2 separate regions of the Homo sapiens genome follow, and region 2 is linked to region 1. The links come from fine-mapping of genetic effects on gene expression. A gene starts in region 1. The other region holds a variant in brackets. All regions are shown on one strand. Distances are between the middles of the regions.

Region 1 (16,039 bases):
CTCACGTGATCCACCCACCTTGGCCTCCCAAAGTGCTGGGATCACAGGCATGAGCCATCACGCCTGGCCTATTTCTGAGGATGACATTAGTATTTGGATTAGAATGCATCCTGAAAGGGAGCGTCTGTGTCCATTTAACATGTTTTAAATTAATAATACCTCTACTAGAATACCTTGTAGAATACCTCTACTAGAAATCACTCTGCACACACTCTGGATTGATTGTTCATGTGATGAATTAGGCAGATTCTCGTTTCCACTCCTCTTTCCTGCCTACTTGCCGTCAAGGTCAATGAAGATGACTATCAGATATAAATGCTGTTTTTCCTCATTCGGCCTGTTAGGTTGGCAAGTGAGGAAGCTGAATCTTACGACTAAAAGTATTTTGAGGGTACAATAAATTTCAGTTATCTTACCATCCCGCTTCCCAAATGGATTATGAAGACTTAATGTTATTAAATGATCCAATTCTGATGTCAGAAGGGAATGCTAACCACTTATCAAATATAAGTATGAAAGAATTACACCTTCGTCACAAAGTATTATTTAGCCATAGAACAAATAGTGCATATGATCAGAATGTGTTCATTTGAAGATGGGTAAAGGTGAGTCATGAGCTAGTCCTACCAGGATATGGAATATAGCAGGAGTTGGATGAAGAATCTCTGGAGAATCTCAGTGCGTATTTCTTAATAAATACTTCCTTCTCCTCCTGGTGATGCAATTTGTGCTCAACACACAGTAACAAGAAGTGGAAAATAAATGATCTCTCTCAAGTATGACTTTTTAAAATAAAAACAAAAAAGATGGGCCAGGCATAGTGGCTCATGCCTATAATCCCAGTGCTTTGGGAGGCCAAGGTGGAAGGATTGCTTGAGCCCAGGAGTTCAAGACCAGCTTGGGCAACATAGCGAGACCCCCATCTCTACAATAAAAACAAAAAGATGTGTTCTTCTCAGCAGCACATATACTAATATTGGAATGATACAGAGAAGATTAGCACATTTTTAAAAATGTACTGTTTAAAAAATTTCTCAAGTATTTTTTCAAATTATGAGTCATATCATTAAAATCTTTAAATTTTAAGTGTGATATATATAAGATACCTATAAAATGTTCAAGTAGCACTTGGAAGAGACATATACCTTTTAACCATAATATTAATGTCTTATAACATTAATAACATAATATACAACATTATAACATAAAGAAATAAATAATGAGTCTCTTTTTTTTTTTTGAGACGGAGTTTCACTCTTGTTGCCCAGGCTGAAGTGCAGTGGTGCAATCTCAGCTCACCACAACCTCCACCTCCTGGGTTCAAGCCATTCTCCTGCCTCAGCCTCCCGAATAACTGGGATTACGGGCATGCACCACCACGCCCGGCTAATTTTGGATTTTTAGTGGAGATGGGGTTTCTCCATATTAGTCAGGCTGGTCTCGAACTCCTGACCTCAAGTGATCCACCTGCCTCAGCCTCCCAAAGTGCTGGGATTACAGGCATGAGCCACCACGCCCAGCCAAAATGAGTCTTAAAATTACTGTTTAAATATCTGTTAGGATCTTTGTTTGGCACCTATAAAAGAAAACTAATGCACAAAGAAGAAAAGAAAAATCAAGATTTCTACCTCTCTGTAGTTAACACGCCCATTGTGAAGCTGAAGAAACTCCAGAGCTCTGTGTCCTGAGAGAAATAAATACATAAATCAATTAAGTTCAACTATTACTGAAAACATAACTTAGGCGAGATGATTTTAAAAGAAAAATACACAATTTGTGGTTATAACTGTCAAGGACGCAGGAAATGAAATGAGTTTGCACTCACTGGCAATTTTCATTAGGTATAGGCTTGTGCAGTATTTCTATTGTTATAGTACAAAGCAAGTTTAGATGGTGATTTAAAGTTTCTGCTTAACTATTAAATAACTCTATGAGCTTTAGTGCTATTCAACCTCTCTAGACCTCAGTTCCCTCCTATGGAAAAGAGTTTAAAAAATACCCACCGTATAGGTTGGTTGAAATAATAAATGCTAAGTGACAAGCACAGTGGCTGACACTTGGTAGGAGCTCAAGAAAAAGAAACTGCCAGACCACACATGGTGGCTCACACCTGTAATCCAAGAACTTTGGGAGGCCGAGGAGGGCGGATCACCTGAGGTCAGGAATTCAAGACCAGCCTGATCAACATGGAGAAACCCCGTCTCTACTAAAAATACAAAAAATTAGCCAGGCATGGTGGCGCATGCCTGTAATCCCAGCTACTTGGGAGGCTGAGGCAGGGGAATCACTTGAACCCAGGAGGCAGAGGTTGTAGTGAGCCGAGACCACGCCACTGCACTCCAGCCTGGGCAACAGAGCGAGGCTCTGTCTCAAAAAAAAAAAGAAACTGTCATCATATTTTGCTTCAGTACTGAGGCAGACAAACCTAAGTACAAAATACAATATAACACCTAACCTATGGACTGAACCAATGATCCTCAAAAGTTTTTCATCATTGGACCAGAAGGACAAAATCATCTCAGAAAGCTACCAACTACACCCCACACCCACCCACAGCCTGAATCTCCCAAGAATCAATAAGAGGACTAACATTCCCTGGGAAGTGACATTCAAAGGTGATACCTTATTTCTGTTGTGAATCACCTCCAATTTTTAAAATTCATATAACAAAAAACTATTGCCACTACTATAAGCATTAATATCATAAAAGTCACAACCCACAAATACAAATAACCTGTGTACAGGATTCCAGTGATTTACGCTGAATGAAGCCATTTCTAATTAACTCACTCAGATAATGCTGACCTTCCACTCAGGCCCCTTTATAAGAAATGAAAAAGTGAACCAAAATATTTATAAAATCATCTAATTTATTAGTAAATAAATGATGGAGTTTTGGTCTTCTTCTATGTAAAAAAATTCTCAGAATCCGTGCAGATTCTATTTCAGGAGATGCCTTCAATTATGTTCACATAAATATTATTCTTTAAATGTCCATTAGGACCTTTGTTTGGTACTTAATGAAGAAGGGCAAGCAATTATCTGGTTTTATTAAAATTTCAGATGCAATCTGTCTTGTAAATTTTTAAACACTAAGGATTAAAAATGGAGTATTTCCATTTATATTTGTTCCTCATCAGCTTACTCTGTAGTTTTGGCAATTTCAACTTCACAGAACATAGAACTGCAAGACACTTTAGAATTCTTTAAGAAGTTCAACCCCCTCATTTTATAGAATTGAGAGGTAGGTAAAAAGTGAATTGCTCAGAATCACACATCTACTTTACTGGATGGCTGGAACTAGAACCTAAGTCTGATCCTCTTTTCCATTGTTTCCTGACTCCCTTCTAGCAGTACATTTTTAATGGAAAGAACGCCGGACCAGCTGTCAGGACATGTAATTCTAGGCCAGGCCACTGAAAACTTAGCTGTAAAACTGTCTAGTATCAGTTTCTTCATCTGTAAAAGAAGAGAACTGGACTCGGTGACTTCTAGTGTCCTTTCAGATAGTCAAATTCTGTGATAACAGGTTCTTGCCCATCGTAGCTCAGTATATATGTCTATTTTGCACTGATAAATTTTCATTTTTTGCCTATAATCTTATTATTCTTTGAAACTTCTGGAGGTGGTACAACTATAAAATTCTGTTATAATTTTTATCTAAATTAAAGAAAACTCAGGCCAGGCGCGATGGCTCACGCCTGTAATCCCAGCACTTTGGGAGGCCGAGGCAGGCGGATCGCAAGGTCAGGAGATCGAGATCATCCTGGCTAACATGGTGAAACCCCATCTCTACTAAAAAAAAATACAAAAAAATTAGCCAGGCGTGGTGGCGGGCACCTGTAGTCCCAGCTACTCGGGAGGTTGAGGCAGGAGAATGGTGTGAACCCAGGAGGCGGAGCTTGCAGTGAGCCGAGATTGCGCCACTGCACTCCAGCATGGCGGACAGAGCGAGACTCCGTCTCAAAAAAAAAAAAAAGAAAACTCAGAACATCAGGTATATCTGAAATTAATCTGAAAATTGCTGTAGAATGTTATCACAGCTAATTCTATTACAAATTGACTCACGTTTTCCATGCGTTAAAACATGTTACAAATACACTTCATACAAGAACCAAATCCTTTTGCTAAGAAAGATCTTAAGTGTTCTCAGCCCATATGCAAAAAACATGGTAGCTATGTGGGGGGGGCGGATGTGTTAATTAGCTTGATTGTGCTAATCATTTCACAAGGCATACATATATCAACACATCATGTTGTATATCTTAAATTTATACAATTTTTGTCAATTATACATCAATAAAGCTAGAAAAATAAAAATTTTAAATAACTCTTTGTGGTGCCATCTCCCTATATCCAGGATGACTCTGCCCTTGCCCCTAAGGTCGGTGGCACTGGCTTGCTGTACCCTTCTGCTCTCCAACTCCTGCCATCTTCCTGGCACCGTGCATGTGGATAACTAAACTCCCTTACTTTCTTGACCTTCCTGAAGCCAAGCACTTTTACAGCAATTTGACTCAGGGACCCACTCCCATGGCCACATATGGCTCTTTACATATACTTGGAAATGCCTGTCCTTGGACATGTAAAAACAACAAAAGTACATTTCTCACTCCTGCCATATTCCACCCATCTTGTTCCTCTCCCATTCTGTCAGTTCTGCTGCCACGTTGCAACCTCTCGTTCACTGAGCCTCTCACTATTTCCCCACCCAGAGAAACACACAGGGGTCCCATGACCAATGGGGCATCAGCTCTCTTTCTTATTTGCCCCTTAACTGAAGTCATGCTGCCAATCCCTATCCCTGGATGACTGCAATCACCGGCTTCTCCTCCCTGCTGTCAGGCCACTCAGCTCAGTGCCCAGGGGAAACTGTATCAATCCACGAGCGGGATTTTCAGTCTCTTCCTTAATGTCTTTGACAGATGTATTGTCCTCTCAACAACATAACAAGACACCAGTACTTACCTATTTCTACGTGTGTTGAAAGGCCACACGGTGAACCTCTATGGCAGAGAGAACCCAACATGATCAGCAGGCCAGGCCACAACCTGAAAGCAGACATGATCTCATTGCCCACCGGCTTCTCTGGTGACGTGGGAATGCTCAGAGCTGCAGCAGCACTGGGACTCCAAAATCCAGGTGCAGACCCACCGCTTCTCTCTAAGCAGGTCACTGACCGAGGAAACCAAGCCTCATTTCAAAATAATATCGTTTTCCAATGAAGTCAACTGTCCAACTACTGTTTAGCTTCACCAGAACAGCAAACAAACTCTGTGCTCCTGGGGGGTGGGGTTGGGAGGATAAACTGAAATCTGAAAAGCCTTAGGCCAGAAGCACTGCATCTTCTGACCGAGGTTTTTTCTGGATTTCATTTTAACATGAAATTTGTGTAGAGATGCAAGCAAAGTTGTCTCCAGATATTTTTTGCTTTCTATAAAAAGGCTCACCTGTGCAGATAGTCAACATATTAGACCACCTCACCTTACAAGGGTGGATCTCTCATGCATCCTTTCTACACATTTATCAGGCTGTCCTGCTTCCTCCGCCTCCCAAGCCACAAGTGCTGGGAAAGTTTTATGGTAATCAGCTGGAACTGGCTTCCTTTTCAGTATTTGGCAACAGATACTGACACTTGTATGGGATTACACAAGAGCAGCCACTCCTGGTCTCTCTACCTCTGGCTGTTCTAATAGGGCTTATCCAGAGCCTGTTGCAAGGTCAGATTCCTGCAGCTGAAGCAAAGATGTCAATTCCACTTGGGAGGTGGAAGGAAGGGGGCAGATTTAGGGCCAAGAAACAGGGTTTGGAAAATGTTAAGCTCACGATATATTATCAGGTACCCACTTACACTTCATCCATGGGAAAAATTAAGCTCTTCATGAAACTGATGGTAATCTTAAAACACAAATTATGCATATTTTACATTAAAAGCAAGAGATGGGCTCCTAAAAGAGTGGGAGGAAATAGTATTCACTTCAGGTTTGCCAAATGAAAGGATGAATAGAAAGTGGGATGATTTGGCTGGGCGTGGCGGCCCACACCTGTAATCCCAGCACTCTGGGAGGCTGAGGCTGGTGGATCACCTGAGGTCAGGAGTTTGAGACCAGCGTGATCAACATAGTGAAGACCCCGTCTCTACTAAAAATACAAAAATTAGCCAGGTGTGGTGGCACGTGACTGTAGTCCCAGCTACTGGGGAGGCTGAGGTGGGAGGATCTCTTGAACCCAGGAGGTGGAGATTGCGGTGAGCCGAGATTGCACCACTGCACTCTAGCCTGGGTGACAGAGCAAGACCCTGTCTCAAAAAAAAAAAAAGAAAAGAAAAAAAGAAAGTGGAATGATTTGACAACAGTTGTCGCCCCAACAGTTTCCCCTGTAAGCTTAACACAGCCATGTGCACAGCCCCAAGGAAAGAAATCCCGCAGCTACCCCCAGACCTGAGGGGCAGTAGGCCCAGCTACTCCTGATTAGTCCAGAGGCCATATGCCTACGTGTTTTGTTTGGCTAACAGGATGTTTTATAAACTTAAATCAAGTTTATGAACTTTTTCTAAATGAGAAAATTCACGTAGAAATCTAGATTTCTGGCTCTCTTAAAAACAAAAGAACTGGCATCATGAACTGACGCTCCCATGTGACACGACAACCAGCTGCAGCCAAAGAGCCAGCTGCCCCCTGATAGAGCATGTCCTGCTCCTCCAGTCCCCACCATCCATGCAATGTGTGCAGGTTTCCACACCCCTTCTGGCCACCAGAGGCCTTTGAGTTTGCCTCCCTGTCACTCTGGGCCTTCTACAGACTGTGCGTGAGGGAGTCACAATTATTAATTGGGACTTTGGATATTGTCTCTCAGAACATCCAAGAGCAGTCAATCAATGGTTACAGGGGAAAAAAATACTGCTAGAAAAGATATCTAACCATATATAATACAACAAACCCATCCAAAAAGCACCAAAGAAATGGGTTCAGAACAGGTGTGGTGGCTCACGCCTATAATCCCAGCACTTTAGGAGGCCAAGGCGGGCAGATGGCTTGAGGCCAGGAGTTCAAAACCAGCCTGTGCAACATGGCAAAATCCCGTCTCTACCAAGAAAAAAACAAAAACAAAAATTAGCCGGGCATGGTGGCATGCACTTATGGTCCAAGCTACTCAGGAGGCTGAGGCGGGAACATCGCCTGTACCTGGGAAGTGAAGGTTGCAGTGAGCTGAGATCACACCACTGCACTCCAGCCTGGGCAAGACCCCACCTCAAAAAAAAAAAAGGAATGGGTTCAGTTACCAAACAATACTAATCCCAAATGTCTCAATTTCTCATTATGCATTTTTTTGTATTTGAGATTCAGAATGACATAAACGTATAAATGTAATAAAATAAGAGGAAATTATTTGCTTAGTGTGATAGTTATGAATATGGTCTTTATATGACAATATTGCTTGCAGTTTTATGAAGTTTGTATTACTTTGGTAACAATAAAAACATCAAAGATATGACTTTAAAGAAAGTTAAAACGTAGCTCACAATATTACTATCTGACAAATAATAAGCATATGGAAATATTTTTCTTTCTGCCCCACACCCCCCTTTCCTAATATAGGTGGCTTTGTTATAAACAAGACAGCATGATTCTACCATTTAGAACTCTTCTGGAAATAGAGACCCAAGGTGAAAAGTAAACATACAGTTACATTAAGGAGTGAGTAGGGAGAATACAGGTTTGAAAGCCAGAGGGTCTCAAGCTTTATGTGGGCCAGTCTAGAAAATGGGGGAGAAGAGGCTGGGCACAGTGTCTCATGCCTGTAATCCCAGCACTTTGGGAGGCCGAGGTGGGCAGATCACCTGAGGTCAGGAGTTCAAGACCAGCCTGGCCAACATGGTGAAACCCCATCTCTACTAAACAATACAAAAATTAGCCAGGCATGGTGGCGCGCACCTGTACTCCCAGCTACTCTGGAGGCTGAGGCAGGAGAATCACTTGAACCCAGGAGGCAGACGTTGCAATGAGCTGAGATCGTGCCATTGCACTCCAGCCTGGGCGACAGAGTAAGACCCTGACTCAAAAAAAAAAAAAAAAAAAAAAGTGAAAGAAAAAAAAGAAAAAGAAAATGGGGGAGAGGATGAATAAGGGTGGGAACTGGGGAGTGGAGGTTCCCAGGACAAGGGCAGCCAAAGGAGAAAGGAGGGAAGAGGTCCCTCTCACCTGATGGTCTTGTCCTTGTAGGCCCTGGTAAGGACAGACACCCAGCCAGGCGCTAGGGGGCATCAGGACAGGCTGGAAGTAAGACAGGAGCCAGGAGGAAATTGTTTACACTCTGAATGGGGGCTTGAAGAGGGGCACAAAACTGAGGGAAAAGGGGAGGGCCACATTGTGAACTTTCTAAGCTCCAGGCGCTTTTGCCTTTGTGAAGTACTTCCTGTCACAAAAATAAGTAAACAATAAATAGAAATCACATTTTACATCTGCATTGGTGTAAGATTAACATATTAATATGCCACCTAAAACTTCTTTTCTTCAGATTTTAGAATAAATTAAACATTTGTGAGTGCTCCTAAAAGTTTTATGGGCCCTTGGCATCGTACCTACTGTGCGTAATGGATAAGTCATCTGGGAAAGGGAGTGGGTACCGTTTGAAATAGAACCTTAAAAAGGTAAGTGGGCTAGGGTAATTTTTGAACAAGAGAGGCAGCCACAATTAACTTGGCTTTTCTGGGCCTCAGTTGATTGAGGCCTCAATTGAATGATTTCCCCAGGCCAGTAGAAATGAGCCCTGTAATCCCAGCACTTTGGGAGGCCAAGGAGGGCGGATAACTTGAGGTCAGGCATTCAAGACCAGCCTGGCCAACACGGTGAAAACCTGTCTCTACTAAAAATACAAAAATTAGCTGGGCTTGGTGGCACACACCTGTAGCCCCATCTACTCGGGAGGCTGAGGCAGGAGAATCGCTTGAACCCGGGAGGCGGAAGTTGCAGGGAGCTGAAATCGCACCACTGCACTCCACCCTGGGTGACAGAATGAGTCTGTCGGTCTCACAAGAACAAAACAAACAAAAAACAAAAACCACCACCAAAAACAAAACAAAACAAAAACAAAAACTCCCTCCGCAGGCAGGAGATGTAAACACGCCAGCTCCCCAGCCCCACCTGTGATACCTACTGGCCCACATCCCTATTAGGACTCCCTGGTTCTCCCCAGTTCCTGCAATAAAATACAGAGCAAAATAGTGTGAAATTGATTAAACTCTACTGTTATCACTTCTGCCATATGTGACTGGCTCAAAACTCAATGGATCTGACTCAGCAAAAGACAAAGTCAAAATTTAAAGTTACTGCCTCGGCATTTTGCAAATGTCCTAGAAAAAAATTCAACGTCCTAGAAAAAGGTGAAAGCTAGCAAGATACTCTCAACGCTGTAGGAGTTGAGAAAGGGAGATATGTAACCTAAAATCAATGCATAGGGCTGGGCTTCATTTGCACCCACAAATTCCCAGCATACGCCTGCTATTTTTATTTTTATCCTCATTAGGTTTTAAGCTTCCCTGCTGCTTTCAGAGTCTTAAGCCCAAGTCTAATTTTTTAACGGATGAAGAATGCTGTTTAAAGGTGCTCAAATACCTTGGTTGGATAGTATGCTCAATCCTTATACCTTGGTTGATTCAATTTTGACAAATGCTTCCATTTACTAGTTGGTGACCCAACTTTAATCTTACTAGTGGCTTGACTAGGGTAGCTAGTATGACTTTGAACGCTATATTGAATTTAATGTGGCAACTGTAATGAGCATTTTACGTTATCTCACAACAAAATGGGGTAGATATGGTTCTATTTTATAAGTGACTGGACTAAGGTTAACCTGTCGGTCACACAGCTTGTCGGCAACAGACTTGAGTTTGGATCCTAGTCTGTTTATTTCCAAAGCGCTGTTATTTATCGGGAGCAACCCTAGGAGAATGCCTAGACACACACCCAAAAAAGCAGCCAGGCAGCAGAACGCGGGGTCACACTTCGACCCCTCAGAGAACGATCGCTCCCAATCAATACTACGTGCTCAGGAGCTACAACTGAAGAAGCGTGATCACGGCCTTGGCATTTAGGGCAGGCACCAGCGCATCTATGGACCGCGCACAAATTCCGGGGATGCCGAATTTGGGGGATGCTAAGGGGAGAGAGTGGGTCTCTAGCAGCGATTGGGGGCTCAGGAGCAGTTAGTGACAAATGAGCACCCGAAAAGTGAAAAGGTGACAGCAGTCCGCAGGTGCATCTACTGGCGAGCCTTCTCCATCCCCGAACCCAACCCTCCCCCGGGAGAAGGTCGCGCCAGGAGAGAAGCCGCGCGGCGCTTAGGGCAAGGTGCAGAGGGCGGCGCGGCGGTGCAGCGAGAAAGACGCGGAGAGAGGGCGCTGCTCTGTGGCTCTGCAACCTTCCGCCAGCTCCCACGCTTTCCCCGCGCGTCCCCGGCGCCTCCTCGCTCCTCTTGCTTCCCCGCGACCCCTGCGTTCCCGTGCGCGCGCGCCCGCTTGCCTGTTTCCTGTCGCCGTCGTTGCCCGGGCCATGGCGACCTGCATTTGGCTGCGGAGCTGTGGGGCCCGGCGCCTCGGGTCGACGTTTCCAGGCTGCCGCCTCCGCCCCCGCGCCGGCGGCCTGGTCCCTGCCTCCGGGCCTGCGCCCGGCCCGGCCCAGCTCCGCTGCTACGCTGGGCGCCTGGCGGGCCTCTCTGCGGCGCTGCTGCGCACCGACAGCTTCGTGGGCGGCCGCTGGCTCCCGGCCGCCGCCACCTTCCCCGTGCAAGACCCGGCCAGCGGCGCCGCTCTGGGCATGGTAGCCGACTGCGGGGTGCGAGAGGCCCGCGCCGCCGTGCGCGCTGCCTACGAGGCTTTCTGCCGCTGGAGGGAGGTCTCCGCCAAGGTGAGAGAGCCCGGATGCAGGGGGCCAGAGCTGGCCGGGGACACGGCGGGGAGCAGAGGGGGCTTTACCCCAAAGTGACACCAGCCGCGTCGCCTCCCTCCTGTGCTCAGTTCCCCAGGGTATACAAAGTGGAAAGTCAGAGCAACAAGGGAGACGACCGACAAATAAGTTTGGAGCTTCCACTTTGAGCCGGGCACTAGGGACACGACCCCTGCCCTCAAGCCTCATCAAGTTATGCACTGCCCAGTAGGGGAGGCAGAACGTGAGCGCCTAATACAAGCGAGCTGCTTGTTATGGTCAACAAGCCTAACCGTGGAGGGGCGGGGAGAAAGGGGAGGGGTGTCAGGGAAGTGAGAGCACGTGTGGCCCTTCAGAGTAGCTGAAATATCTCCGCAGCTGCAGGGAGCCCACGCAGGAGGCTGCTTCAGCGGCCCTTGAGAAGGCTGGTAGTGAGGGCCCCTGGCCAGAATCATGGGATCGGAAACGGAGAGAACTGTAGAAAGATTTGGGTTTTGTGCAGGGGAAGAGAGAAATCCAGGAGCGTTCTCCAGGTTTTCACCCTAAATGGATAAATGCTGCTATTGGCCATTGCATAGAGAACACTGGAGAATTGGGAGTAAGGGGTGGAGGGCCATTAAATGGGAAGAATAGAGTAAGAAGAAAACTAAGAAAGTAGTTTCTTCCTTCTAATATTATATTATTAAACCTGGAGTCAACGCAGTGAAATTTTTTACCGTGTCCTTCAAAGCTCTCCCTCTGAAGGAATGCATCCAGCGATCCCTACGAGTACAAGAGAGTCTTAGCACTCATTCATCCATCAGCTGTTTACTGAGCACCTGCTGTATGCCCTGCACTGTTGGAGGTGCTTGGGATACCTCAGTTAAACGAAAGAAGGATTCTGCCCTTATGGAGCTCACATGGGGTGGAAGGGGAGCAGAAGAGAGATCAGAACTCTAAACAACAAACATAATATCTAAGCAAATAAGTATGTGAGAGATGCTGAGTGCAATATGGAAAAAAGGTAGAAGCAGGAGAGGATCCGGGCCAGAGGGAAGGGGCAAGATGCAGCATCAACAGTGTGACCAGGCATATTCCTCTGCTAGGGCTGCCATAGCAAAGTACCACAGACTGGGTGGCCTGAACAACAGACATTTCTCATTTTACCGCTCTGGAGGGTAGAAATCCCAGATCGAGGTGTTGTCAGAGTTGGTTTCTTCTAAGGCCTCTCATTGGCTTGCAGAGAGCTCAGCTTTTGTCTTTGTATCTCATCAGACCTCAATTTTAGACTCATGGAGTCTGAGATGTCTGTTCACGCCCAAGTGAGGATGTAAAGTAAGCAGTTGGTTATATGAATGAATCTTCCCTGTGTGTCTCCACATGGTCTTTCCTCTGTGTGTATATGTGTCCTAATCTCTTCTTCTTTTAAAAACAGGAGTCAGATTGGATTGGGGCCCACCAGAATGACCTCATCATAACTTAATTCCCTTTTTAAAGACCCTATTTCCAAATGCACTCACATTCTGAGATACTGGGGGGTTAGGACTTCGACATGTCAATTTTGCCAGGAGCACCATTCAGCCCGTAACATCAGGGTAGGTCTCATTGAGGACATGAGATACAAAGACCAAAGGAGGTAAGTGTGTCCGGAGTTGGTTCCTGCCGGTAGGTTTGTGGCCTCGCTGACTTCAAAAATGGAGCCGCGGACCTTTGCAGTGAGTGTTACAGCTCTTAAAGATGGCATGGACCCAAAGAATGAGTGGTAGCAACATTTATTGTGAAGAGCAAAAGAAGAAAGCTTCCACAGCGCGGAAGGGGACCCGAGTGGGTTGTCGCTGCTGGGTGGGTGGGGCGTGGTGGCCAGCTTTTTATTCCCTTATTTATCCCTTCCAGTGTTCCGTTTCTGTCCCATCAGAATGCCTTTTTTTCAATCCTCCCTGCGATTGGCTACTTTTAGGATCCTGCTGATTGGTGCGTTTTACAGAGCGCTGATTGGTGCATTTTACAGAGCGTTGATTGGTGTATTTTACAATCCTCTTGCTAGCTACAGAGCGCTGATTGGTGTGTTTTTTACAGAGCACTGATTGGTGCATTTTACAATCTCCTTGGTAGCTCCAGATCGCTGATTGGTGCATTTTACAATCCTCTTGCTAGCTACAGGGTGCTGATTGGTGTGTTTTACAGGGCGCTGGTTGGTGCATTTTACAATCCTCTTGTAAGACAGAAAAGTTCTCCAAGTCCCCACTCGACCCAGGAAGTCCAGCTGGCTTCACCTCTCATAAGGACATTCAGCTAGAGCCAAAGTAGAAGCATGGCTGACACATTTGCAGAACAGCAAGGAGGCCCGTGTGGACTGAGCAAAGGGGAAGAGTTGTATCAGAGGAGGTCATAGGGAGAAGGGGAAGAGTGGGTGGAACATGTAGGACCTGTGAGTTATTCTAAGGACTTGGTTTTTACTTTGAGTAAAGAGGGGGCTGTGTCAGGGTTTTAAGCAGAGATATGATCTGATTTACATTTTGAAAGGCCACTCTAACCACAGTGCTGAGAATAGATGAAGAGTGGTGGAAGCAGAGAGACAGGTTAGGAGGTTGTTGCACGGATTTAGGTGGGAGGCCACGGTGGCTTGAACCAGGGTGGTAGCAGTGGACAAGGTGAAGAGTTATCCCATAAAGGATGTATTTTGAAGGTAGAGCCCACTGGATTTTCTGATGGATCATTATATAGAAAGTAGGTGAAGGAGAGGGGTTAGTGATGACTCCAGGGCTTTTGGCCTGAGCAATTGGAAGGATGAGGATAGCTGAATTGAACAGCATTAGGGTGAGATATCAAGAGTTCAGTTTTAGACTTATTGAGTTTGAGATGTCGGTTCACACCCAAGAGAGGATGTAAAGTAAGCAGTTGGGTGTATGAGTCTGAGGTTTGAGAGCGAACCCTAGGCTAGAAATATAAATGTGAAATTCATACCTGTGTGTACTGCATACATACTTACAGCTATGGAAATGGTGAGATCACAGGAAAGGAGTGGACCAGGGCCTGAGCCCTGGTTCCCCTAGCATCATTCTGGAGTCCCACAAGGCCCCACGAAGATCAAGGCTGCCATACAATGGTGTTACACTGCAGGGGTCTGGAAAGCCTTCTAGTCTGTCAGTGATTGTTTGGCAGCTGCAGGGCGGGTGTTGGGACCTCTTGCTGACACTAGCAGCATTATCCTGTGTTCAGATCACACCGCCCATCCTAATGTCTGTGCCCCTTGAACATTACAGTGATGTCAGCTTCCATCTTACAAGGGCTAGGATCTTCTCAGGGAACCTTCCTTTTTGAAAGGAGGGGTTCAGGCTGGGCACGGTGGCTAACGCCTGTAATCCCAGCACTTTGGGAGGCCAAGGCGAGTGGATCACCTGAGGTCAGGAGTTCGAGACCAGCCTGTCCAACATGGTGAAACACTGTCTCTACTAAAAATACAAAAATTGGCCAGACACGGTGGCTCACACTTGTAATCCCAGCACTTTGGGAGGCTAAGGCAGGTGGATCACTTGAGGTCAGGAGTTCAAGTCCAGCCTGGCCAACATGGCGAAACCCCATCTCTACTAAAAAATACAAAAATCAGCTGGGCGTGGTGGTGGGCGCCTGTAATCCCAGCTACTCAGGAGGCTGAGCCAAGGAGAATTGCTTGAACCTGGGAGGCGGAGGTTGCAGTGAGCCGAGATCATGCCAACTGCACTCCAGCCTGGTGGACAGAGCAAGACTCTGTCTCAAAAAAAAAAAAAAAAAAGAAAAAATACAAAAATTAGCCAGGCATTGTGGCATGCACCTGTATGTAATCCCAGCTACTCAAGAGGCTGAGGCATGAGAATTGCTTGAGCCCAGGAGGCGGAGGTTGGTTGCAGTGAGCCGAGATGGCGCCACTGTACTCCAGCCTGGGTGACAGAGCGAGACTGTCTCAAAAAACAAAAATGAAGGTTTTTCTTGGCTTTGAATACACCTGTGCAGATGTGGGAAGCTACAGCCTGAGCAGCGCTCTCTTTAGAGTGCCTTGATGGCAGCCCAGGTGGCCTAGATTCTCTAGGCCTTCCTCATTTTCTTTTTTTAAGTGGTTTTATGTGAATGAATTAATTTTTTTTTTAATAAGCCATTTCTTCCTTTTTTCTTTTCTTTTTTTTCTGAGACAGGGTCTTGCTCCATTGCCTAGGCTGGAGTACAGTGATGCTATCATTGGCTCACTGCAGCCTCAAACTCATAGGCCTAAGCGATTCCCCCACCTCAGCCTTCTGAGTAGCTGGGACCACAAGCATGCACCACCACACCCAGATAATTTCTTTTCTTTTTTTTTTTTTTTTGAGACGGAGTCTCGCTCTGTCACCCGGGCTGGAGTGCAGTGGCGCAGTCTCGGCTCAACTGCAACCTCCGCCTCCTAGGTTCTCCTGCCTCAGCCTCCCGAGTAGCTGGGACTACAGGCGCCTGCCACCATGCCCGGGTAATTTTTTTGTATTTTTAGTAGAGACGGGGTTTCACCGTGTTAGCCAGGATGGTCTGGATCTCATGACCTCATGATCCGCCCGCCTCGGCCTCCCGAAGTGCTGGGATTACAGGCACGAGCCACTGCGCCCAGCCCCACACTCAGATAATTTCTGTGTGTGTGTGTGTAGAGACAGATCTCACCGCATTGCCCAAGCTGGTGTTGAACTCCTGGCCACAAGCAACCCTCCCTCCTTGGCCTTCCAAAGTGTTGTGATTACGGGCATGAGCCGCCACACCTGGTCCCATAATATTGTTAATAATCCAATGTATCCCTTTATCTGTTTTTTGTTCATTGGAATTTTTTAAATTATGGCAAAATATGCATAACATAACATTTACCATTTTAACCATTTTTAAGTGTACATTTCAGTGGTATTAAGTGCATTCATGTTGTTGTGCCTGGGCCCTCTTCTTAAGTGTGTAAAACCCTTTCTTATGCCTCATGCATGCCCCAGTCCATATGTCAGTCTCTGGGACAAATCCAGGTTGCCAGTGAGCCACTATAATAGGGAACAATACTTGAAGACACTATGCTGAGTGAAATAAGCCAGTCACAAAAGGGCAAATGCTGTATGATTCTACTTAATATGAGGTACCTAGAGTTGTCAGATTCATAGAGA
Region 2 (16,039 bases), 27 kb before region 1:
ATGTGCAGTGGCTCACACCTGTAATCCTAGCACTTTAGGAGGCTGAGACAGGAGGATCACTTGAACCCAGGAGTTTGAGACCAGCCTGGGCAACATGGAGAAACCCCATCTCAACAAAAAATACAAAAAATTAGCCGAGTGTGGTGGAGCGTGCCTGTAATCCCTGCTACTTGGGAGGCTGAAATGGGAGGATCACCTGCATCCAAGAGGTTGAGGCTGCAATGAGCTGAGATCTCACCATTGCACTCCAGCCTGAGCAACAGAATGAGACTCTGTCTCAACAACAAGAAAAAGAACAAGTCCTTTCAATGCAGAACTTTAATTGTATTTGTATATGTGTATATATATTAACAAACAAATAAACTGGAACAACAGGATGCCAAAGATATCCTCCAGACCGGCCAGGCGTGGTGGCTCACGCCTATAATCCTAGCACTTTGGGAGGTCAAGGTGGGAGGATCACAAGGTCAGGAGTTCGAGACCAGCCTGGCCAATATAGTAAAACCCCGTCTCTACTAAAAATTAGCTGGGAGTGGTGGCGGGCACCTGTAGTCCCAGCTACTTGGGAGGCTGAGGCAGGAAAATCGCTTGAACCTGGGAGATGGAGGTTGCAGTGAGCTGAGATCGTGCCGCTGCACGCTAGCCTGGGTGACAGAGCAAGACTCCATCTCAAAAAAAAAAAACGATATCCTCCAAACCACACCCAAGCTGAGATGTGGTTGTATTTGCTGCCAGGCAGGCACGAGAGGTCACATGCAGAATGCTAGGAGCCGTACACCACAGAATTTGGGGGACAACAAGCCCCTCAGCTTGGGATGCTGAATCGTTCTTAATGTGGTTACTGCAGAGACAAAAAACACAAACGAGAGTGGCCCTGAACAAGCTGGCCAGATACTAGATCCATCCAAGTTAAGGGGACACAACTCTAAATCTGCCCAAGGGTGACATGAGACCAAACAAGATTTCCTAGGTCTGCTCCAAAGCAGAGCACAGTTGGCTCAGAGCATGAAGGCAGCCCAGATGGCTCAGGCGCTGCAAAAGCACAGGGTCTGAGGATCTTTCAGGCACGAGTATGCCTTCTGCTTTGCCCATTCTAATCTCACTGGCAGGCCATGCATAGATTGCTTCATCCTAAAGCCTAGCTCTGACTTGCTCATTCATCCAGGAAGCAATTAATCAGCTCCTACTATATGCCAGGTACCACAGCAGACACTGGGAACATAAAGTCCCTCCTTAGACAATTCATTTTTTTGCAAAGGAGAAAATCCAAATATGGCAAGACAAAATGACATGTGCTTTGATAGAGGTTCCCCTCCCCGGTCCGGACCAGCTACATAATTTAAGGAGGCCAGGGCAAAATTAAAACATGCAGCCTTTTGTTAAAAAAATTGTTAAAGCCGGGTGTGGTGGCTCACGCCTGTAATCCCAGCACTTTGGGAGGCCCAGGTGGGCGGATTACCTAAGGTCAGGAGTTCAAGACCAGCCTGGCCAACATGGTGAAACCCCATCTCTACTAAAAATACAAAAAGTAGCTGGGCATGGTGGCGGGTGCCTGTAATCCCAGCTACTCAGGAGGCTGAGGCAGGGAATTGCTTGAACCCGGGAGGCAGAGGTTACAGTGAGCTGAGGTGGTACCACTGCACTCTAGCTCAGGTGACAGAGCAAGACTCTGTCTCAAAAAAAAAAAAATTGTTAAGAATTTTAAGGCAGTGACAGCAGTATATTAAACCTAAACTAGGCCCTTCCGCAATTCTCAGAGACCCCATTCACAAAGTTGTCTAAACCCTTCTGACATTAAGAGCCCACTACAATCCAATGCCTACTTAGCTTCCTAAGCCTCTCATAGTAACTCATATTCCTTGTCCTGTGCTCCAGGCAAATACGACTACTCAGATTTCCCAACACCTGAAACTTTCCCAACCCACTAACAGAAATGTACTCTCACTGATGAAATACTATCTACTGTCCAAGACCTAACTTGAATGTCCCCTCCTCCAGGAAGCCTTCTCTGTCTGATAGCCTCCAAGGTGAAGCTTTTCTCCCTGCTATTTTTTTTTTGTTTTGTTTTTTGAGACAGGGTGTCACTCTAGCACCCAGGCTGGAGTGCAGTGGTGCAACCTCAGCTCACTGCAACCTCTGCCTTCCAGGAACAAGTAGTCCTCCCACCTCAGCCTCCCGAATAGCTGGGACTACAAGTGCACACTACCATGCCCAGCTGATTTTTTGTTACTTTTTTGTAGAGACAGGGTCTCATTATGTTACCCAGGCTAGTCTCAAACTCCTGAGCTCAAGCAATCCACCTGCCTCAGCCACTTAAAGTGCTGGGATTACAGGCGTGAGCCACCACGCCCATTCTCCCTACTATCTAATGATGCACTTACCGCACCATGGTATGTGTTGCAGTCTACTCACATAATGGTTATTTTTGTATTTGTCACTCCTTTCAGACTGAAATTTTTTAAGGGTCAGAGTTCATTTGTCTTTCATTTTATATCCCCCAGTAGAGTGTCTTCACTTAACAGCTAACTTCATTGATTAATTTCATACACAATGGGGCTATGCACAGTGAGCCTTCAACATTGTGAACGCCTTTGGGACTAAGTCCAAAGAAGGATTGGCCTGGGTGCCCAGGGTCATCTTGACTTGACAGAGACCACTGAGGTGCAGACTCAGGGCATCTCCAGAACAAACCACATATGGATGCCAAGAGTATTTGCCGGCCTGGCACATGCTTAGACCCAGGCTGGAGTGCACTGGCATGATCATAGCTCACTGTAGCCTTGAACTCCTGGGCTCAAGCAATCCTCCTGCCTTAGCCTCCCAAGTAGCTGTGACAACAGGCACAGCCATCACACCCAGCTAATTTATTTATTTTTTATAGAGACAAGGTCTTGCTATGTTGCCCAGACAGGTCTCAAACTCCTGGACTCAAGGGATCCTCTCAACTCAGCCTCCCAGCCACCACATCCCACCACAGGTAAATTTCAATGGACAAATAAATACCCAGGGACTCAGCGAAACAAGGTATCTCAAGAAGCAGCATTCCTCTTTCTCAACTTAGAGCAGAAAATTCTTACCGGGGTCCAGGAATTTACACTAAAGAACACTCCTCTTTCAGTATAGTTTATATTCCTGTCAACACTTTCAGTTAGGGATGTAGTCAAATTTCTGTGAAAATCATTTTTCTGCATTTTTGAGCTGTTGAAGAGAAAGAGGAATAAACTGGTTACGACTGAGAAAACAACCCCCTGTAAAACTGAGTTGAAGAATATAGTCAAGTTAATCACAGGTTAAAAGACCACAAAATTTTAACGTCAGAAGGCTGAAGGAGCAACACAGAAAGTTTTAGAAAACCTTCATTTCACAAAATCTTTTAGTAAACACATTTCTAAGGCTTAAAAGCCTATCCTTATAAAACATATTTCCTATAATATCAGAGCTCTATGGTAGGAGTAAAAGGCTTCAATTCTTTCCAGATTATGAAAAAATTTAGCAACAGGTATCAGCTGGTGGGGAAACTGCTTTGCAAGCATACTGATTTTTTTTTTTTTTTTTTGAGACGGAGTCTTGCTCTGTCACCTAGGCTGCAGTGCAGTGGCACGATCTCGGCTCATTGCAACCTTCGCCTCCTGGGTTCAAGCAATTCTCCTGTCTCAGCCTCCTGAGTAGCCTGGAACTACAGGCATGCACCACCACACCCAGCTGATTTTTTTGTATTTTTAGTAGAGATGGAGTTTCACTATGTTGGCCAGGCTGGGCTCGAACTCCTGAGCTCAGGTGATCCACCTGCCTCGGTCTCCCAAAGTGCTGGAATTACAGGTGTGAGCCATCACGCCCAGCCAGCATACTGATTTATCTTCAAAGACATGCTAAAATTAATTATACAATAAAAATACATTTTCACATTCAAAGATGTCAACCAGCCAAAAAGCAGATGACTCAGGGAGCCAGAGAGGCTTCAGAAATGACTGAAGTAGGGAGTGGACAACAGCCGTAAGTGACGGGGCCCTGGGCATGACACCAACTAGTGTCAGGGTTCTGGCAACCCCAAGAAAGATTGCAAGCCTAATCAAAAGGTGCTCAATGTGATTAAACAACAACAAAGTATGTTGAAGGAATGGTTTGCTAGGAAAAAAAGAAAAAGAAAAAAAAAAGTTACCCAATTCAAATACAACAATGACGACTTCACTGAACACTTTCTGTGTAATTTTCATTCTTCCAAAGTGCTAAGATCATTCCTCTCAGTACCTTTATCATTGCAATACTCTACTTTTGAGTATATCTCACTCTTGATCATCCTTAAATATCCCGGTTAAGCCATCACTTCTTCAAGGAGAGCTCTTTTGTGCCCAGGGCCAGGACGCTCTGTTGCAAATCCCCAGAACACCCTGCATTTTTAATTCCTGACACTTAAATATCTGTTAAGCCATCACTTCTTCAAGGAGAACCCTCCTGTGCCCAGGCCAGGACGCTTGCAAATCCCCAGAGCACCTTGCATTTTTTCTTCCTAACACTTAACAATGTCCACAATTACTTGTTTAGTGCCCAGCTACCTGCCAGGCCATATACCTGAGAGCAGGAACTGTTTCTGTCTTGTTCACAATGATATCTCTAGTGCCTGAACCAGTTCCTGGCACGTACTGATTAATAAATGATATTTTATTATTTGTGTTATTTTGTTCTATTTTATTAATAAATATACACATATTTGTAATATTAATAACTTATTAAATGAATGCATAAATGACTGTCGGTTGGTACCTGACTCCAGCAGAAAATATCATTTCTTAAAATACAAACCAGGCTTCTGGCCCTTAACATTGAGGGCTTCTCCCAACACTGTCTCATCAATAAATAAATTTTCATGTAAAATCTGGGTGAAGTTTATGAGTAAGACAATAATATTGATAGTTACAATAATACTAACTACATTTCTTCTTTCTTTTTTTGAGACAGGATCTCACTCTGTTGCCTAGACTGGAGTGTACTGGCCTGATCTCAGCTCACTGCAGCCTCGAACTCCTAGGCTCAAGCAATCCTCCCGCCTCAGCCTCCCAAGTAGCTGGGACTACAGGCACACACCACCATACCTGGCTAATTTTGTTCATTTTTTGTAGATATAGGGGTCTCACTATGTTGCTGAGGCTGGTCCTGAACTCCTGGACTTAAGGGATCCTCCTGCCTCAGCCTCCCAGAGTGCTAGGATTACACGTATGAGCCACTGTGCCCAGCCACTAACTACCGTTTAATGAGCAACTCAACATGTGCTAATTGCTTTACATCCACCACTGCATGTCATCCACACCATAATTCTGGGAGTGTTGATGTGCTTTTTCCATTTTGCAAAAGGAGGAAGCTATAGCTCCAAAAATCAAGCAGCTTGTTTAAAAATCACACAGCTGCAAGTGACAAATCTGGAATTTGAACCTACAGCTGTCTCTCAACAGATCCCGTGTTCTCAACCTCTATAGGGCATCTCCTCCAGGTGAGATGTACTTTTTCTATGAACAATTTTGGAATCCACTTACCCCTGGGTGTGGTTTTGCTGGCCGCCACATGCAATGAACAGAGGGTTCTCAGGCAGGTTGCAGTCACTGAGGAAACAGTCAAATGAGTTAGCCATTTATCTACTTCTTCACAAGCATGAATTTTACCGAGAATCGGTAGTGCGCTTCAATCATCTCCCAAAGGCTTAAAGTGTTTATTACCTAGCCATACAGGACTAATTAAGAGCCCATGTTCTCCCAGAGAGGGTGGGTAGGCTGACGGTTGTCACTATCATGGTAATCCAGGAAGGCTCATGCTGCCAGTCACCCCAGACTCAGCCTTCCTCTTCCCTCCCCGCTCCACCTGCTGAGCTGTTCCACGCTAACACGAAACGTCTCAGAATTTGAGAGTGTTATCAACACTGGTTACCAATTATGTCACCTTCTGCCCAATTATACACATTTATGCCTAAATGTGTCTGAATTTCTCAATTTCATTTCTTTAAAAAAAATTCCATAATTTCAATAATTAAATAGCTAATGAAGGATCCCCTTTTACAAGTGAAAAAGCCTCTGAGAACATAAGAGATAAACTCTTCCCAATAGAGGCTTTCCCCCAACACTGAACAGAAGCACTGAGGAAGCAGGTATTAATATAAGAAGAGTATTCTGGAATGAAGACTATCTTAAGATTTGTATGGAGGTCACTGAGGGAGGCTGGGGTAATACAAAAGTAATGTGGAGTGTAGGGGTGAAGAAAATTAGTTGCTGAAAAAGGAATTCCAAAAAGGAGGTGGGAAAAAGCTGAAGGCAGACTCTTCCTACCAAAACATTTCTCTGGCCAGGTTTGAGCTGAGGAAAAGGTTCTCTCTTTGGACCTTTTCTTGTCCACCACAGGACACAAAAGGCAGCCTTACAGCATTAGCACTATACTTTCAAATAGAGTTTGAGGTGAGTAGAGTTCTTGGCAATGTAACTACCACTACTTCATTGCTTTTTTAAGGAAAATATACCAAATAACATAAGTGAGCTTTGGAAGATAACCTGTGTTAGTAAGCTGGGAAATGCCTGTTACTATGAACATATTTATGTTTTCCTTTCTGTTATGAATTTTTTTGTGTTGTCTCTTTTTGGAGACTTCTCTGAATTTCCCATACATTTTCATAAATTCTGATGAATCTTTCTTTGTATATGTATGCAAACAAGCAATCAACTCATGGAATTTTACACCTTGGTAAATTGGGACAGGGATCAAGAGACAAGAAATATGTTCTTTCTCAATTATCTTTTCCTAACGAAAGAATAAGGTCCAGCTATCTTTCCTTAGCTATTTGGAGAACCAAACCAAAATTGAACACCAAAAAATGTTTTCCAGTTTGGATTATATAAAACAAGTAAGTGCAGGTCAATCACTCAAACATGCCCTTATGTTATGAGTCCTTCCAATACAAACTTTGCTTCCTTCTAATAATAATAGTAACCAATACTTAGTAAGTGCTTACTCTATTCTAAACCCTTTACATGACTGATCTAATTTACTCCTCACAAAAATCCTATGGTAAAAATAGTATTGCTGTCCCAATTTTATAGGTGAGGAAATAAGATTTTGGAAGGTTTAGCAACTTGTTCCAGATAACTCAGTAGTGAGTGGCAGATCCCTTAAATTCTGTACAACCACGGCAGTATGCACCTAAAAACCCAGGTCCACGGGAGAGCTTGGGGATTTTAGTTGAGGTTTATTTCACTATTAAAAGTGGCATTCATATGAGATTGCTATCCCTGCCAAATTGTTACTCACCGATTGTTAAAAACAAGTTTATTATGTACCAAGCTAAGGTCGAATTTGTCATCAAAGGGAATTTTGTTTCAAATCAACACAATATATAATTATGGTTAACACTGTTTGGGTACTAGCAAATGTTTATAAGGGTAAAGGAATATCACCCAGTATAATATTCTGGATCTACATTCTGTAGGCCATTCCAACTTATGAACAGCTAACTCTGCTATGATCCTGACCTGGAACAGTCTCCCAGGCACAGGTCCCGCCCAGAGAACCCTCTTTCCCACTGCTGGTGGTACAGCCTAAGCTTCCCGCTCTGCCCTTTCCCCGATTCGGGGGCTGCCCTGTGCTTCCTAGCCACACCCACATCTCAACCCGGTTCAGGTCAGTAGTGGGGAGAGGCTGCATGTCCAACAGCATGATCAGAAATGGGTTCTCTGGGCCAGGCATGGTGGCTCACGCCTGTAATCTCAGCACTTTGGGAGACAGAGGTGGGTGGATCACTTGAGGTCAGGAGATCGAGACCAGCCTGGCCAACCAACATGGCAAAACTCTGTCTCTACAAAAAATACAAAAATTAGCCAGGTGTAGTGGTGAGTACCTGTAGTCATAACTACTCGGGAAGCTGAGGCAGGAGAATTGCTTGAACCCAGGAGGTGGAGGTTGCAGTGAGCCGAGATCGCACCACTGCACTCTAGCCTGGGCAACAGAGCAAGACTCTGTCTCAAAAAAAAAAAAAAAAAGAAAAGAAAAGAAAAGAAAAGAAAAAAAAAGAAATGGGTTTTCCGGCCACGCATGGTGGCTCATGCCTGTAATCCCAGCACTTTGGGAGTCTGAGGCGGGTGGATCACTTGGATCTCAGGAGGTGGAGACCAGCCTGGGCAACATGGTAAAACCCCATCTCTACCAAAAATACAAACAATTAGCCTGGTGCAGTGGTGTGAGCCTGTGGTCCCAGGTACTCGAGACTGAGGCACAAGAATCACTTGAGCCCAGGAGGTGGAGGTTGTAGCGAGCTGAGATAATGCCACTGCCCTCCAGCCTGGGTGACAGAACAAGACCCCATCTCAAAAACAAAAAACAAAAACACATGTGCTCTTAAAAAAAAAAGAAAAAGAAAGAAATGGGTTATCAGAAGGGCCTTGGCTCCCTCTGATCTAGGGGTAGTGTAAGACTCTGTGAGAGTCTAATGATCTACTACAGCTAGAAGTGGGGACAATCACAGTCTACCTTATCTATATTTCGGCTGAGTTTCTGATTAATTCTTGTCCTGAGCATGCTTAGGAGAAGAAAAGGAACTGGAGGTTCAGCAGCTGTCCCATCTGGGCTAGATGTCAAATTTCAACAGAATGTTTTACAAATGCATTTATTTCTCATTTTACGTTGGAGTGTGTGTCGGGGCATGTAGCTATAGCTCTATTTGCTTCTGTTTTTTTAGTATTAGGTGAGGTATCCTTTGACACCCTGAAACCCTGAGAGTGTAGTCAGGGTGGAGAGGTGTGTCACCACAGCAAGAACACAGCCACTCTGGGACCTGTGGAGACCTGGCACTCCAGCCCCCAGCATGGGTTTTCCCAAAAGAAACAGATGGAGGCTGGGTGCAGTGGCTCATGCCTGTAATCCCAGCACTTTGGGAGACCAAGGCAGGTGGATCACTTGAGGCCAGGAGTTTCAGGCCAGCCTGGCCAATATGGC[G/A]AAACCTCATCTCTACTAAAAATACAAAAAAATTAGCCAGGGATGGTGGTGCACACCTGTAGTCCCAGCTGATTGGGAGGCTGAGGCACGAGACTCCCTTGAACCCAGGAGGCAGAGGTTGCAGTGAAGCCGAGATCGTGCCACTGTACTCCAGCCTGAGCAACAGAGCAAGACTCTGTCTCAAAATAAAAAGAAAGAAACAAATGGAGCACCACCTGTGGAGGCTGATTCCTGCCTGGCTGAGCCATTTCTCACAGACCCCAAATATTGCAATAACTGTCTCTCTATTTCTAAAACACGAGCAGCATCAACCAAGCCAACTGGATGGGAACCAGTCAAGTTTATAAGATCACTGAGTTTCCATTCTTTCCCTCTTTGAATAGGTTAGAAAAGCACTTCATGAGATTGTTTTGTTTTGTTTTTATGTGATCAGTTGAAAAACCTGAGAGTTATGTTGGGGGATGGGGTAAAAAGGCAGAGAGTGATTGGTAATAGAAATGCAATATGAATTCACCTGGTCCCATTCTCCAACATGAAGCTTGTTAGATGGTAAATATTAGTGGACCAAAATGCCATATCATCCAGTCCTCCAAGAAAATACTCTTGGAATTGTTCCACCAAAAACGGGGACTTTGTAGAGTAAGTGGGATATAACTATGGCAGAGAGAAAGAAAAAATAAAATGAATATGGTACTATTCCTGGTATCTTTATAATCCTTTAAGATTTGGAAGAATGACGCCTTTACCTTGGAAACAGCTAGCATCTCACCATACCTGCAAAATAAACAATAATTTTGGCTGTGAGTTGCAGTTTGTAACAGAGAAATGAAGCAAATAATGAAGAAAAAGTTCCATCCACCCTTTTCCACCGTCATGCAACTGCCTTTGAATAAGCAGAATCCATAAATCCAAAATCCAGTCTCAGGAAACAAAAACATAAAAACTGTGCAAAGGAAGTCACAACAAAATCAGCTGCAAATTGTCCTCTGAGTTACGCTTACATTTCTAAGAACTGGATATGTGAACAATCAACGATTACATTTTCGGTGATGACTTTTCGACCATACAGTTTCTCATAAATTCCCAGTAGATCTTTGACTGGCACATACCTGAAAAATGCAGAATAAAGTAAGAGTTGTTTTGATTCTGAAGCTGAAAATAGTAACAACAGCAGCAGCAGCTACCAGTTATTCCGTGATTATTTTGTGCCAGGCACCATGTAAAAGTCTTTACATGCACCAGTTATTTAATCCTAGCAATGACCTCAGGTGGTTAGTACTATCATATTCCCGTTTTACATAAGAAGAAATGATTAAGGCACAGAAAAGTTAAATAATTGGCCCAATGATGCAGAGCAAACAACTGGTAACTTAAATCAAATATTTATGTAGGTATACTCAGATTGGAAACTAACTATAACGTACAAAAAGAGTGGTTAATTTTGTGAATTCAGAGTTCAAGAAGTAATTTAAAGTATTTTCATGGTTTCAAGTTGAATTGAAAAGAATTATTTTAAAAACACTATTATAAAAATGTCTCCTCACCCTGACATCTTAATTTCAGAGTATATAAAGTATACAAAAAAGTATACCAAAGTATAAAAATATTGTAAAGGAAAATAAATCTCAGAACCCCAAAATCACTAAACTAAAGGGAAAAGTCAAGCTGGGAACCGTGTAGGGCAAACCTGCCTCCCAATCTATTTCTGTGTGGTTTCTGTGTGGTTGTTTTTGTTTTCTGTTTTTTGTTTTTTTTTTGGAGATGGAGCTTCGCTCTTGTTGCCCAGGCTGGAGTGCAATGGTGCAATCTCCGTTCACCGCAACCTCCGCCTCCCGGGTTCAAGCAATTCTCCTGCCTCAGCCTCCCAAGCAGCTGGGATTACAGGCGTGTGCCACCACGCCCGGCTAATTTTATATTTTTGGTAGACATGGGGTTTCTCCATGTTGGTCAGGCTGGTCTCGAACTCCCAACCTCAGGTGATCCACCTGCCTCGGCCTCCCAAAGTGCTGGGATTACAGGCGTGAGCCACCACACCTGGCCCTCCCAATCTATTTCTAAGTGAGATTGCTACAAAGATTAAAAGCTACATACCTCCCTCACAATTTGCCCACAAGGAAATTCATGTGGGCAAAGGACAGATAGAACTCAAATATCATCCCTCTGCTCACCTGAGACAAATGTATATCTGATTGCTTCCTTTGCCTAATTGTTTCACTAAACCAGACTACAGCATAAGTGACACTATTACTGTAAACTGCATTTTCAGTGAAAGGCTAATTGGAAATTCGGAAGGATGTCTCATAGCTACCTATGACCTGGAAGCCTCCTCCTCGCTTCGAGTTGTCCCATCTTTCTGGACTGAACCAATGGACATTTTACTTATTTTTTTATTTTTATTTTTTTTTTGAGATGGAGTCTCACTCTGTCACCCAGGCTGGAGTGCAGTGGTGCGATATCGGTTCACCGCAACCTCCGCCTTCCAAGTTCAAGCAATTCTCCTGCCTCAGCCTCCCAAGCAGCTGAGACTACAGGCATGCGCCACCATGCCTGGCCAAAACAACTGACCTGTAAGGGGACTGAACCTGCGACCCTGGTGTCATTAGCACCACAACTGAGCTAACTGGCCAACAGCCATTTCGCATTTATTGATTGATGTCCCAAGTCTCCCTAAAATGTACAGATAACCAAGATGTGCTCCAACAGCCTTGGGCACATGTTGTCATCCGGACCTCCTGAGGCTGTATCATGGGTGTGTCCTTAATCTTGGCAAAACAAACTTCCTAAATTGATTGAGACTTGTCTCAGATACTTCTTGGTTTACAGTATAAAGCAATGAAAAGAATTCTAAATCAGGCTTTTGGTTCACAAATATTAGTTATTTCCATTGCAAAGAGCAGCATTTAAAAACCAGATTTATACTCAATCATCTTTTAATTTAAAAATCCTCAAAAGTCAGGAAACAACAGGTGCTGGAGAGGATGTGGAGAAATAGGAACACTCTTACACTGTTGGTGGGACTGTAAACTAGTTCAACCATTGTGGAAGTCAGTGTGGCGATTCCTCAGGGATCTAGAACTAGAAATACCATTTGACCCAGCCATCCCATTACTGGGTATATACCCAAATGACTATAAATCATGCTGCTATAAAGACACATGCACACGTATGTTTATTGCGGCATTATTCACAATAGCAAAGACTTGGAACCAACCCCAATGTCCAACAATGATAGACTGGATTAAGAAAATGTGGCACATATACACCATGGAATACTATGCAGCCATAAAAAATGATGAGTTCATGTCCTTTGTAGGGACATGGATGAAATTGGAAACCATCATTCTCAGTAAACTATCGCAAGAACAAAAAACCAAACACCGCATATTCTCACTCATAGGTGGGAATTGAACAATGAGATCACATGGACACAGGAAGGGGAATATCACACTCTGGGGACTGTGGTGGGGTGGGGGGAGGGGGGAGGGATAGCATTGGGAGATATACCTAATGCTAGATGACGAGTTAGTGGGTGCAGCGCACCAGCATGGCACATGTATACATATGTAACTAACCTGCACAATGTGCACATGTACCCTAAAACTTAAAGTATAATAAAAAAAAAATCCTCAGAATAAACAAGATAAAAAATCGCAACCAATAAAATCTAACTTTAGTAGGTTTCTTTTAGTAGGTAAAAGAAAGAAACAATTGAGAGACTCATTTTTTATTTTATAAGAGCACTGGAATGGCATTCCCAATAAAAATAGCTTAAAAAGTCAGACAAAATAACAAAAAATATTTTTTTAAATGAATCACCAAGCTAGCAGGACAGCAGAAATTTTTCAAAGGCCAAAAACAACTAGAAACAAAAAAACCCTGGGAGGTAAGCAAATGGGACAACCAGCTTTTGCCCTGAGAACGTGTGCCACACCCTACACGTTAGGTTTGGAACCTGGACGGTTTTTTTTTTGTTTGTTTTTTTGAGATGGAGTTGGAGTCTCACCCTGTCGCCCAAGCTGGAGCGCAGTGGCATGATCTCGGCAGTTCTTAACTTGAGCCTACTTATTCTAGCACCATGGAATATCACCAAACATGACCAGTATAACTCCAGTCACATCTGATAAAGGAGACTTTAATGCAGCAACTATTATTAGAGATAAAGAGGGATTTTGCCTCACGATAAAAAGCTCAATTCACAAGGTATCCTTTTGAAATTGAATGTACCTAACAATATATCTTCAAAATCTATATAGCAAAGCAAACTCTGACAGAACTACAAGAAATTGAAAAATCTACCCTCATGTGGGAGATCTTTGAAACTAATTTCTCTCTTAATAATCAGTAGATAAACCTGATAAAAAGTAAAGAAATAAATAGTGATGTTATCTTACTTATAACTTACAAATCTTTTTATTTGAATGGTAAATTTTTTTTTCTTTTTTTATTTTTTGAGACGGAGTTTTGCTCTTGTCTCTCAGGCTGAAGTGCAATGGCATGATCTCAGCTCACTGAAACCTCCGCCTCCCAGGTTCAAGTGATTCTCCTGCCTCAGCCTCCCAAGTTGCTGGGATTACAGGCACGTGCCATCGTACCAGGCTAATTTTTGTAGTTTTAGTAGAGACAGGGTTTAACCATGTTGGCCAGGCTGATCTCGAACTCCTGACCTCAGGTGATTCACCTGCCTCACCCTCCCAAAGTGCTGGGATTACAGGCATGAGCCACCGTGCCTGGCCTCAATATTTCAAAATTGTTAATTTTCCAATTCATCTCTAGATTCAATAAACACTTAATCAAAATTCCAGCAAAGTTTTTCTTGGAACATGACAACTTGAGCCTAAATCTTATTTGAAAGAACAAAGGCAAAGAATAGGCAAGGTACTTTTGAAGAAAAAGAAGGACTAGTTATAAGATCTGCCCTAACAGAGCCCAAGACTTATTATAAAGCTACAGCAATTAAAATAATCAATATTGTTCAGGGACCAAAAGGACATATCAGAAAGCCCAGAAACTGACCCATACATATACATAACATTTTAATTTATAACCCAAAGGGGGTGCAGTGGCTCACACCTATAATCCCAACACTTGGGAGGCCAAGGTGGGCGGATCACTTGAGCCCAGGAGTTCGAGACCAGCCTGGGCAACATGGCAAGACCTCATCTCTTACAAAACATTAAAAAATTAGCCAGGTGGAGGCTGAGGTGGGAGGATCATTTGGGCCTGGAAGTTGGAGTTTGCAGTGACCCAAGATCACACACCACTGCACTCCAGCCCGAGCCACAGAGTTAGACTGGCTCAAAAAAAAAGACAGAAAGAAACAGAAAACCAAAACAGAGAAGGTATTGTAGATCAGCAAGGAAAGGGGAGACTATTGATAAATCATTCTGGGACAATCCATTATCTCCAGAGGAAAAAATAAAATTAGATTTACATCTCAGAACATACAAAAAATTAACTCCAGTTAAATCAAAGACATAAAGCTAAGATATAAAACTATAAAAGCTTTAGAAGTCCATGTAAGAGAATAACCATTTGCCCTCAAGGTAGAAAGGTTTTCTTTCTTTTTATTTAAGAGACAGGGTCTCACTGTGTTGCCCAGGCTGGAGTGCAGAGGCGCGATCATAGCTCACTGAAGCCTCAAACTCCTGTGCTCAAGTGATCCTCCCACCTCAGCCTCCTGAGTAGCTGGGACTACAGATGCTGTGCCACCACACCTAGCTAAGAACGGATTTCTTAAATAAGACATCAGAAGTACACATTACAAAGGAAAAACTGATCTATTCAACTACATGAATATTAACAAATCCTGTTTGTCAAGATACACAATAAGTGAAAGGACATACCACAAACTGTGAAAGACATTTGTAATAACTAAGTGACAAACTGACAAGAGAGTAGAAGCCAGAATATATAAATACTCACAAATAAATAAAAAGGATAAACAACCCAACAGAAAAATAGACTGAAAACTGGAAAAAGTTTTCACTTAAAATCAAACACAAATGATCCATAAAATAGAAGAAAAGTGTAACCTCATTAGCAATCTGGGAAATTCAAACTGCAACCTCAATGAGATACCATTACACACAAACAGGCTGGAAATTTTAACAGTTGGACAATACCAAGTATTGGAGAATGCAGAAGAACCAGAATGATTATACAAAGCTAATGGGAGCATAAGTTAAGATGATCATTTTGAAAAAGTAAACTATGACTCAGCAACTCCACTCCATTCAAAATTGAGTGGAATTCAATTTCTCAAAGAATCTAAACTATGCTAATATGCAATTTTACTTTTCAAAATTTACCAGTGCAGAAGACTTCTAATTATATTGTCAGTTATATTTTCTAAGAAAAAAAGTCAAGGCTCTAAATGCCACTTAGATACCACATATTTAGATGTACATTGCTCTTACCAGCGTCGTGCAAGGTAATTAAAATTAAATTCAAACTGGCTCAACACATCTCCTCCTAGGGTATGAGAAAAATATTGACATTTGGTGGATTAGTGACAAACATAGCATGCATCTATTCAACATGAGGTCTGACAAGTTGGATTATTAGTTTTTCACATTATTACATGTTTTTGTTCATTGTTTTAGGTAAAGGCATGCCTTTTTTTTTTTTTAGACGGAGTTTTGCTCTTATTGCCCAGGCTGGAGTGCAATGGCGTGATCTCGGCTCACTGAAACCTCCGCCTCCTGGGTTCAAGCAATTCTCCTGCCTCAGCCTCCCTCGTAGCTGGGATTACAGGCATGCGCCACCACGCCCAGCTAATTTTTGTATTTTTAGTAGAGGTGGGGTTTCACCATGTTGGCCAGGCTGGTCTTGAACTCCTGACCTCAGGTGATCCACCTGCCTTGGCCTCCCAAAGTGCTGGGATTACAGGTGTGAGCCACCACGCCAGGCCGCCTTTTTTTTTTTTTTTTTTTTTAAGAAAAAATTATCTTTTAAAAATCTTAGTTAGTGAAACATATAAATTAAGAAAGAACTGGCCATATAACCAAAGGTGTTTTTTGTTTTACTTTAAGGAAATATCGACCATAAGGGTTTAATAAACACCATTCACCACCTA

The links. PIP is the estimated chance that this variant, and not a neighbour inherited with it, causes the effect.
Region 2: its variant is the best candidate, but not a certain one, in a credible set for the expression of ALDH5A1 in whole blood (TOPMed, PIP 0.70).

What each region holds. Positions count from the first base shown.
Region 1 is chr6:24,484,447-24,500,485 of GRCh38, forward strand. ALDH5A1 (aldehyde dehydrogenase 5 family member A1) reads left to right here and starts at 10,523. Exons shown (of 10, transcript NM_001080.3): 1 at 10,523-10,904. The coding sequence starts at 10,551. GPLD1 (glycosylphosphatidylinositol specific phospholipase D1) reads right to left here and starts at 5,132. Exons shown (of 25, transcript NM_001503.4): 1 at 4,969-5,132; 2 at 1,629-1,684. The coding sequence starts at 5,065. RefSeq lists a silencer at 10,529-10,918.
Region 2 is chr6:24,457,202-24,473,240 of GRCh38, forward strand. GPLD1 (glycosylphosphatidylinositol specific phospholipase D1) reads right to left here. Exons shown (of 25, transcript NM_001503.4): 7 at 15,381-15,435; 8 at 9,966-10,073; 9 at 9,711-9,738; 10 at 9,479-9,618; 11 at 5,529-5,594; 12 at 3,078-3,198. Among named protein-coding and RNA genes, the nearest start is that of GPLD1, 24 kb to the right of the region's middle. RefSeq lists a silencer at 5,671-5,871. The variant G/A (reference allele first, on the strand shown) is at 8,965.